Homo sapiens: one gene and its partner. The protein of the gene in region 2 interacts with the protein of the main gene of each other region in a biochemical or structural test. Each region holds a gene or a part of one and is shown on either strand. Other genes may lie near its edges.

Region 1 (3,500 bases), on a different chromosome or scaffold from region 2:
CACTTCTCCAAAAAAGCCCCCACAGCTCCCTCCAACAGCACAGCCCTACTCCCACCTCCACCCGAATCAGGTTCCTCCTGCTTTAGCAGCTCAGTAAGCCTGTTCTCTCCTACAGAGCCCCATGCCAGCGTGTGATGATGACACAGTCACTGGTTTGCAGATGCACAAGAACAACGATCAACTATGGCTTTGCCCATCATGGTGATGAGAACAATACTGGACATCTAGAAGGTACCCAGAGGATGTCTGTAAGTAGAATGCACTAACAGACCTTTGGCGTGCCCCTCCCTTTCATACTCTGCATACACCTCAGGAACATGGCCTGTCACTCTGACCCCGGAAATGCAGCGCTCACCTACCCTTCCTTTCCAGACCCTCTGCCTATACTCTGAGCAGTCCTGGCCTACCCCTGCCAGGACACTGTCTGGGCCCCTAACCAGTTTGCCTGCCTCCCAGCACTGCCCACTTTCATGCCCTCCCACTTTGTAGGCAGTGGCTTTCCGAAAAATCCCAATGGCCACATACCCCATGCTATCTGTAGGACCAAGGCCAGAGTCTTTAGAGGGGAGGCAGGATACTGCAAGCCAGAGCCCATCCTGGCAGTCCAGCCCTGCCTCCACCTCTCCCCGACAGGCATGCTGCCACCTCCTGACTGGCCTCCCCTCAAAGCCAGACTCCAAGCTCCATGGAGCTCCTCTCCCTGCCAGGAATGCCCCTGCTTCTGCCCCAGCCATCCAAACCCTGGCCTCCTCTCCTGCATACCCCCATGTGGGAGGGTACACACACTCCCATGTCTGCAAGACCCCTATAGATCTGTCTCTCCCCACCACGGCAGAAGCCCCATAGGTACTGGGACTCCTATAGTCTAGGTCCCAGCAGAGGCCCCATACAGACTTTTAATATGAAGTCTGTATATCTGCATGCCTGTGAGGGTGCTGGCACCTGACATGCTTGTGTAAGCATCTGTGTATACTACGTGTGTGTGTGTGTGTGTGTGTGTGTGTGTGTGTGTGTGTGTGCCACGTGTCTCCATCTGGGGTCGGCATCAGCACCTCTGTGTTACTTGCCCAGATGAGAATATGCATGCCCTGTGACACTCTTCCTAGACCAGGTGGTCTGATCGATGGCCATGCCTGTGTGTTTCAGAGCAGATGGGTGCAGAGTGGGTCTGCATATCCAGGCTGATAGCCTCGAGTGTAATGTGAAGCACAGGTCCATTGTCTCTGTGACTGTGTCTGTGTAGAGTGGGTGTCTCTATGTGTCTGGGTGAGGGGGTCTGTGGGTACTATGTGCCTGGGGCCAGGCTGCTGTGTCAGTGTGTGTACTTCTGGGTGGTCTGTACTTATCAATGGGCCTATATATAGCAGACATATGTGGGACAGCACAAACATAGAGACACCTAGAGCAGAACTTAGCATGCTTCGGTATCACAGCTAATATACTGACTTTTTTTTCTTTTGACACATGGTCTCATTCTGTTACTCAGGCTGGAGTGGAGTGCAGTGGCACAATCACGGCTCACTGCAGCCTCGACCTACCCTGGCCCAAATGATCGTCCCACCTCAGCCACCCAAGTAGCTGGGATCACTGGTGTGCGCTACCACACCTGGCTAATTTTTGTATTGTTTGTAGAGATAGGTTTTCGCCATGTTGCCCAGGCTGGTCTCTAACTCCTGGCTGAAGCAGTCTGCCTTGGCCTCCCAAAGTGCTGAGATTACAGGCATGAGCCACTGCGCTCAGCCTACTTTGACTTTTTATTGAGCTCCTATTATGTCACACATTGTGCTAAAGACTTGACGTGTGTTATCTCATTTAATCCCACAACGATCCTGTGGTGTTGGTGCTATTACGACCTCATTTTATAGATGAGGAGGCTGAGGCACAGAGAAGCAAGTGATGCTGGAGCAGATGGATCCAGAGCTTAAGCTCTTAATATCGTATCTATCATATCATCTTGCTTTAGAGCAGCTTGTTCTGTGGGTACCTGTGCCTAAGTGTCAGCATGTGCAGGTGTGAGGGTAGGGGGACCCTGCTCCTCAACACACACATGCACGCACGCAAAAGCACACACATACGCACCCTTACCTTTCTTTTCAGCTGCTGGATCTCTGCCTCAGTGACCGCATGCTTGATCTGGAGCTGTTGGGCAGAGGGGCAGGCACTCAGCTCCAGCAGGGTGGGGCAGGCAGTGCCAAGGGCAGGAGACCTGCCTGCCTTTCCCTCCACCACTCCAGGGAGCCCCTCCTCCCACCTCCTTGAACTTGTGCACCAGCTTCTCGGGCTCCATGTCCACAGGGGACAGTGCATCCTCGTTCTCCGCTAGCTCAAACACCTCGATGGCCATCTCACCACCCGGGAACGTGGGGCTCAGCTCCTCATCCTCGTCAGTGGCATACTCTCCCGTCTGCGAAGGGAGACCGGAGACTGTGGGCCCACCCCACCCAGCTGCCCTCAGCCCTGATGACCAGGGCTGGGACCAGTTGCCCATGCCAGACAGAGAGCTACCCAGGAATGTGGTTCATGCCTCCCACTTCAGCCTGAGGCTGGACCAGAGACACGGTTTATGTCTTCCCCCAACAGCCTGGTAGTCCCCTGATGACAGAGGGGGTCAGTTCCTCATCAGCCTGGGTCTCTGAAGAAACAGCCTGTACTATCTTTCCCCTTCTGGATCTATCTCCCTTTCAGATTAGGTCCCCCAAGATTAGGGGCTATGCTCTCCCCGCAGACTGGGGGCTCTTTGAGAGGACTGTGTATTCCTTGTCCGGCCTCTGAAGACAAAGAGTGTGACTGGAGGACAGGGAATGGCACTGTGGGCTTTTTACTAGGGCAGGGGAAGCAGTAGAGGCAGATGACTGTAATGCTTCATCTAGCCACCAGGGGGCGACCACGCGGCCAGCCAGGCAGGGACTCCCTACCTCCTCGTCATCCTCCCCATACTGGGCGTATCTCTGCTCCATCATCTCCCGCTGCCATCGCTCCTGTTCCAAAGTCTGCTGAATTAGCTGGGCCACTTCGCTCTGCTCTCCCGGCCGCTCCCGGCCAATCATAAACCTGCAGGGGCACCGGCATCATCCGCTGCCTCTGTCCTCAGCCAGGTAATGCATCATCCTCCCTGCTGATGCTCCCCTCTCCAAACTCAGGCCCTCCCAGGGGAGGAGAGATGAGAGGGCTGAGTCCGAAGGCTGCAGTGTTAATAATGAATGGGGGAATGAGGGCCCTTATCAGGTTTCCTTCCCAAGGGAGGCAGGAAGGCCCATTCACCCCTCTGGCCAGTATTGCGGGAGGGAGAATGTCAGCCCACCTCTAGGCTGTGCTGCAGGGGACATGCACTGAGGAGGCTCTTCCCCTGCCACAGGGGAGAAAATGAGGCAGGGAAAGGTGAAGATGACCCTCCCAGCAGGGATGGGCTGCGGAGGTGTTTCTTGGGTATGCTCCAAGCCCCTGAGCTTCAGGAAGGGGCGGGATGATGGCAACTGGAGATTAGGATGGAGAGGAAATAG
Region 2 (4,104 bases):
TGCAGTGGCACAATCTTGGCTTACTGCAACCTCTGCCTCCTGAGTTCAATCGATTTCCGGCTAATTTTTATATTTTTAGTAGAGACAGGGTTTCACCATGTTGGCCAGGCTGGTCTCAAACTCCTGACCTCAAGTAATCCACCTGCCTGGGCTTCCCAAAGTGCTGGGATTACAGGTATGAGCCACTGCGCCCAACTGGCATTTACTTTTTAATTTTTTGAGACTGAGTCTTGCTTTATCACCCATTCTAGAGTGCAGTGTCATGATCAGAGCTCATGGGAGCCTCAAACGCCTGGGCTCCAGCGATCCTCCTGCCCTGGCCTCCCAGTGTGGTAGGATTACAGAGTGAGGCCTTGTGTCTGGCCTCGTTGGCATTTCTGTTCAGAGTTTTCCCTCCCTGCTCCTCCCTGTCCATGTCAACTGTCAAAATAGACTCAAGGAATTTTTAATATTCAATGTGTTACAATCTATTACCATTATCCTTTGGAATGCTTAATGTGTTTCACCTCTGGTTGGCGGGAGACCCTTTAAGCCAGCTCCTGTGACAACATGTCATGACATGAGCATGCTCTAGTTTCTGGCACAACACAGTTCACTTATACTTTCCCAGTCTCAGACTTGAAATTAGTCATTTTTTCAAGGAGCACTGTTCCTTACAACCTCCCCCGTGGGAAGTTGTACTTAGAAATAAAAATCCAGGTACTAGGTGTGTTCCTTTCCACAGTCCTTTCAGTGGACAGACCCACAAGATATACAAAAAAACCCCGAAAGATTCTTTTTCCCCTTCCCCCATTCCATACTTATATCTCTCTTTTTCCATAGTGAGACCCTGATTTCCAGAAATATCACCATAGTTACTCATTTCATCTATCATACAATAAACGAAACAGTTTCCAATTTATGACACAAATACCACAACCAATAACATGTCTACAAAGTAAAGGTCAAGATTTCTTTGTAGGTGGTTTTTTTTTTTTTTTTTACTTAAAATATGAATATAGAATCAGGGAATGAAGGTTAAAAAGTACTTAAATTAGGCCAGGCGTGGTGGCTCACGCCTGTAATCCCAGCACTTTGGGAGGCTGAGGTGGGCGGATCATGAGGTCGGGAGATCGAAACCATCCTGGCTAACATGGTGAAACCCTGTCTCTACTAAAAATACAAAAAATTAGCCGGGCGTGGTGGCAGGCGCCTGTAGTCCCAGCTACTCAGGAAGATAAGGCAGGAGAATGGCGTGAACCCGGGCGGCAGAGCTTGCAGTGAGCCGAGATCCCACCACCGCACTCCAGCCTGGGCAACAGAGCGAGACTCTGTCTCAAAAAAAAAAAAATTTCTTACTTCTCCTGCTTTCTTATCCCAAAGGTGGCATACTATATACTGTACTATGTCTTGGTTTTTTCACTTAATAATATATCCTAACAATCATGTCATATAAGTTCACAGGGCTCCTAGTCATTCTTTTTTTTTTCTTTTTGGCTACCTAGGATTCTATTGTATGGACTGTACCATTGTTTGTTTAACCATTTTTTAAAGAATGGGCATTTGGATAGTTTCCAATGATTTCCTATTGTAAATATGCCTTTAAAAACCACCTTGTGGCTGGGCTTGGTGGCTCACACCTATAATCCCAGCTCAGGCAGGTAGATTGCCTGAGCTCAGGAGTTTGAGACCAGCCTGGGCAACACGGTGAAACCCCATCTCTATTAAAATACAAAAAATTAGCCGGTGTGGTGGCTAGCACTTGTAATCCCAGCTACTCACGAGGCTGAGACAGGAGAATTGCTTGAACCCGGAAGGCAGAGCTTACAGTGAGCTGAGATCGCGCCGCTGCACTCCAGCCTGGGCGACAGAGCGAGACTCTGTCTCAAAAAACAAACAAACAAACAAACAAAAATCACCTTGTACGTAGCTTTCCATATTTGTGAATGAGCACCTTCTGGATAAATTCCTAGACGTAGGATTGCTGGGTAAATGTGTACGTAGCTTTGTTAGATATTGCTAACTTCCCGGGCTCAATACTAACAGCCCGTCTTACCCCTGGGACTCCCAGCGCCCAGCACGGAGCCTGGGATGTTAGATGGGCTGTTAGTATTGAGGGTATACTACTTGTTTGTATTCCTGGCATTGATTTCGCAACCTAGGTAGACCTTGCCATGAGGTGTTCTAAGCTAAGACTTTCCTTGAACCTAGCTGAGAGTCCCTGACCTTCCTACCAATAAACGCACTGCTCCAAACTCCCTTTGCCACACCCCAAGTGAAGTGGCAGAAAGGCAAGAGGAAGGGGGTCTTAGTAATCCCATCCCAGTTCATCTTCCCTGAGTTGTCCCAGGGATTTGTGCATGAAACTTGGGAAACTAGAGCAGAGGTGAGTAATGAGGCTGAGGATCTTAGGCAGAGAGGAACTGGGGTGAGGAAAGGTAGAAATGGGGGCTCTGCCCCTTGGCACCTATGTTCTCAATCCTTTCCTTTCCTTTGGCCTCTCCACTATCCTTCACACATAGACTGCCTCTCAAGCCTCTTCCCTGACCCAGAGCCCTTGGCTCTGGTCCTCACTAGATCCTGCCTGGTTTCCCTCCTCAACTCAAGTTCATGTAGGCTGAACACAGAGGACTGGCTTAAGGTAGAGGCAGAAATAGAAAGTCCCTGTCATTTCTGTTTTAACATGTACAGAGGAAATAAGTCAGTGGAACAAGAATGGCTCACACAAGGGAAAGAGGAAAGAGGACACAAGGAGAGATACTGGCAGAGGAAGCCAAGGGCAAAACATTCCACACAAGCATTTTGGACTCCAGCCCCAGGGCCTGCTCTAATCCTATGACCTGCAGAAAAGGGGACATGAGTGGAGAAAGGTTGTCATCCCAGTCTGACAAGGCAGAGGCCTTGCTTTTCTCATCCCTCTTTCCTTCTCACCCCTACCCACCAAATACCCACTGGGATGACAGGAATCAATGCTTATCTGAGAAGCAGGGAACTGGGCTGGGTAGGGAGCCTTGTCTGAGGGGCGCCCTTCGGGGGAAGAATTCAGATTGCCTGAAGAATCCTTCCAGAGAAGGATAGTTAAGACTCTGGGTGGGGTGTTCCCCTTCAAGGTCAAACACTTGGAGCTAATCTAACCTAAGCCAAACAGTTTTTTAGGGGTTTGGCTAACGGGGTTTGTCTTGGTCATTCTGGGGACTAAGAATGAACAAGATCCTTTTCTCTCTCCAAGGCTTAGTGGGTCTGCAATGCTCTGTCCTAGTGGATAGGGCTAATCCATGTCTTTGGGTGCTGGGTCCAAGGCCAGGAGCATTGAAAAAAAAAAAAAAAAAAGAGAGAGAGAGAGAGAGAGAGAAAAGGGGTTTCGGAGTTTTTGAGAGAAGCTAAATTCTTGAATAAGGGGCAGTTTCCGGTGGAAGGCTTGACCTGCTGACAGGTGGCAGGGAGCAGCCCAGACCCCGTTCCTCTCGGGACCTCCGGTTAGTGGGAGTGGGGAAGAGTAAAGCCTCCCGATATCCTGGCCCAGGACATCCAGCCCCTACACATCACCTTACCTCTTCCAGCCCCCACACCTTCGGCAAATTCTAACTGCTCTCCTTCTGCCCCTAACTGGGCCCTCTCATTTTGATTTTCTTCTGACAAAGACCACAGCAGTGTGACAAATCTGCCTAGCCACGCCCTGTCACCTCTACCGTGGAGAGCAGGCTTTCCATTGTGCAGAGGGGAAACTGGAGGCCAGACGGCGGGTTAGGAACTCGCTGGCGTCAGGCTGATTCCAAGGCCCCCAAACTGCCCGTGCTTCTCTCAACATGCCTTGACCCAGCGCTCTAACATCCCAGGCTCCGTGCTGGGCGCTGGGAGTCCCAGGGGTAAGACGGGCTGTGCTCCTTTGACTTGACCTTGAATCTAGAGACTTGGTGGTAAATGGAAGGGAGAAGGGTCTGAGGCTCGGCACAACCTGGGAGGCAGGAAGCCTCCGTTCGCCGCTCGGTTCGCATTCTCCACGGAGTTCTCAGACTACAGCAGAGCCCGGGAGGGTGGAGCCCAGCGGCGGAGAGGCTGGCGGGGCGGGGTCGCAGAGGCCGCGGAGAGCACAGGGGCCGCAGGGTTGCGCAGTCAATCCTGCCC

Evidence for each region. Proteins that work in one complex are often made in the same cells at the same time.
Region 1: the proteins of ATP2B4 (region 2) and PPP1R9B interact in a test that uses a peptide from one of them, tested with the Homo sapiens proteins (one large-scale study listed by IntAct).

What each region holds. Positions count from the first base shown.
Region 1 is NC_000017.11:50,137,178-50,140,677, forward strand, and holds part of PPP1R9B (neurabin-2), read right to left. Parts: intron 3,052-3,500; coding exon 2,916-3,051; intron 2,405-2,915; coding exon 2,252-2,404; intron 2,140-2,251; coding exon 2,086-2,139; intron 1-2,085. UniProt on the Homo sapiens protein: Seems to act as a scaffold protein in multiple signaling pathways. Modulates excitatory synaptic transmission and dendritic spine morphology. Binds to actin filaments (F-actin) and shows cross-linking activity. Binds along the sides of the F-actin.
Region 2 is NC_000001.11:203,629,575-203,633,678, reverse strand, and holds part of ATP2B4 (plasma membrane calcium-transporting ATPase 4), read right to left. Parts: intron 1-4,104. UniProt on the Homo sapiens protein: Calcium/calmodulin-regulated and magnesium-dependent enzyme that catalyzes the hydrolysis of ATP coupled with the transport of calcium out of the cell. By regulating sperm cell calcium homeostasis, may play a role in sperm motility.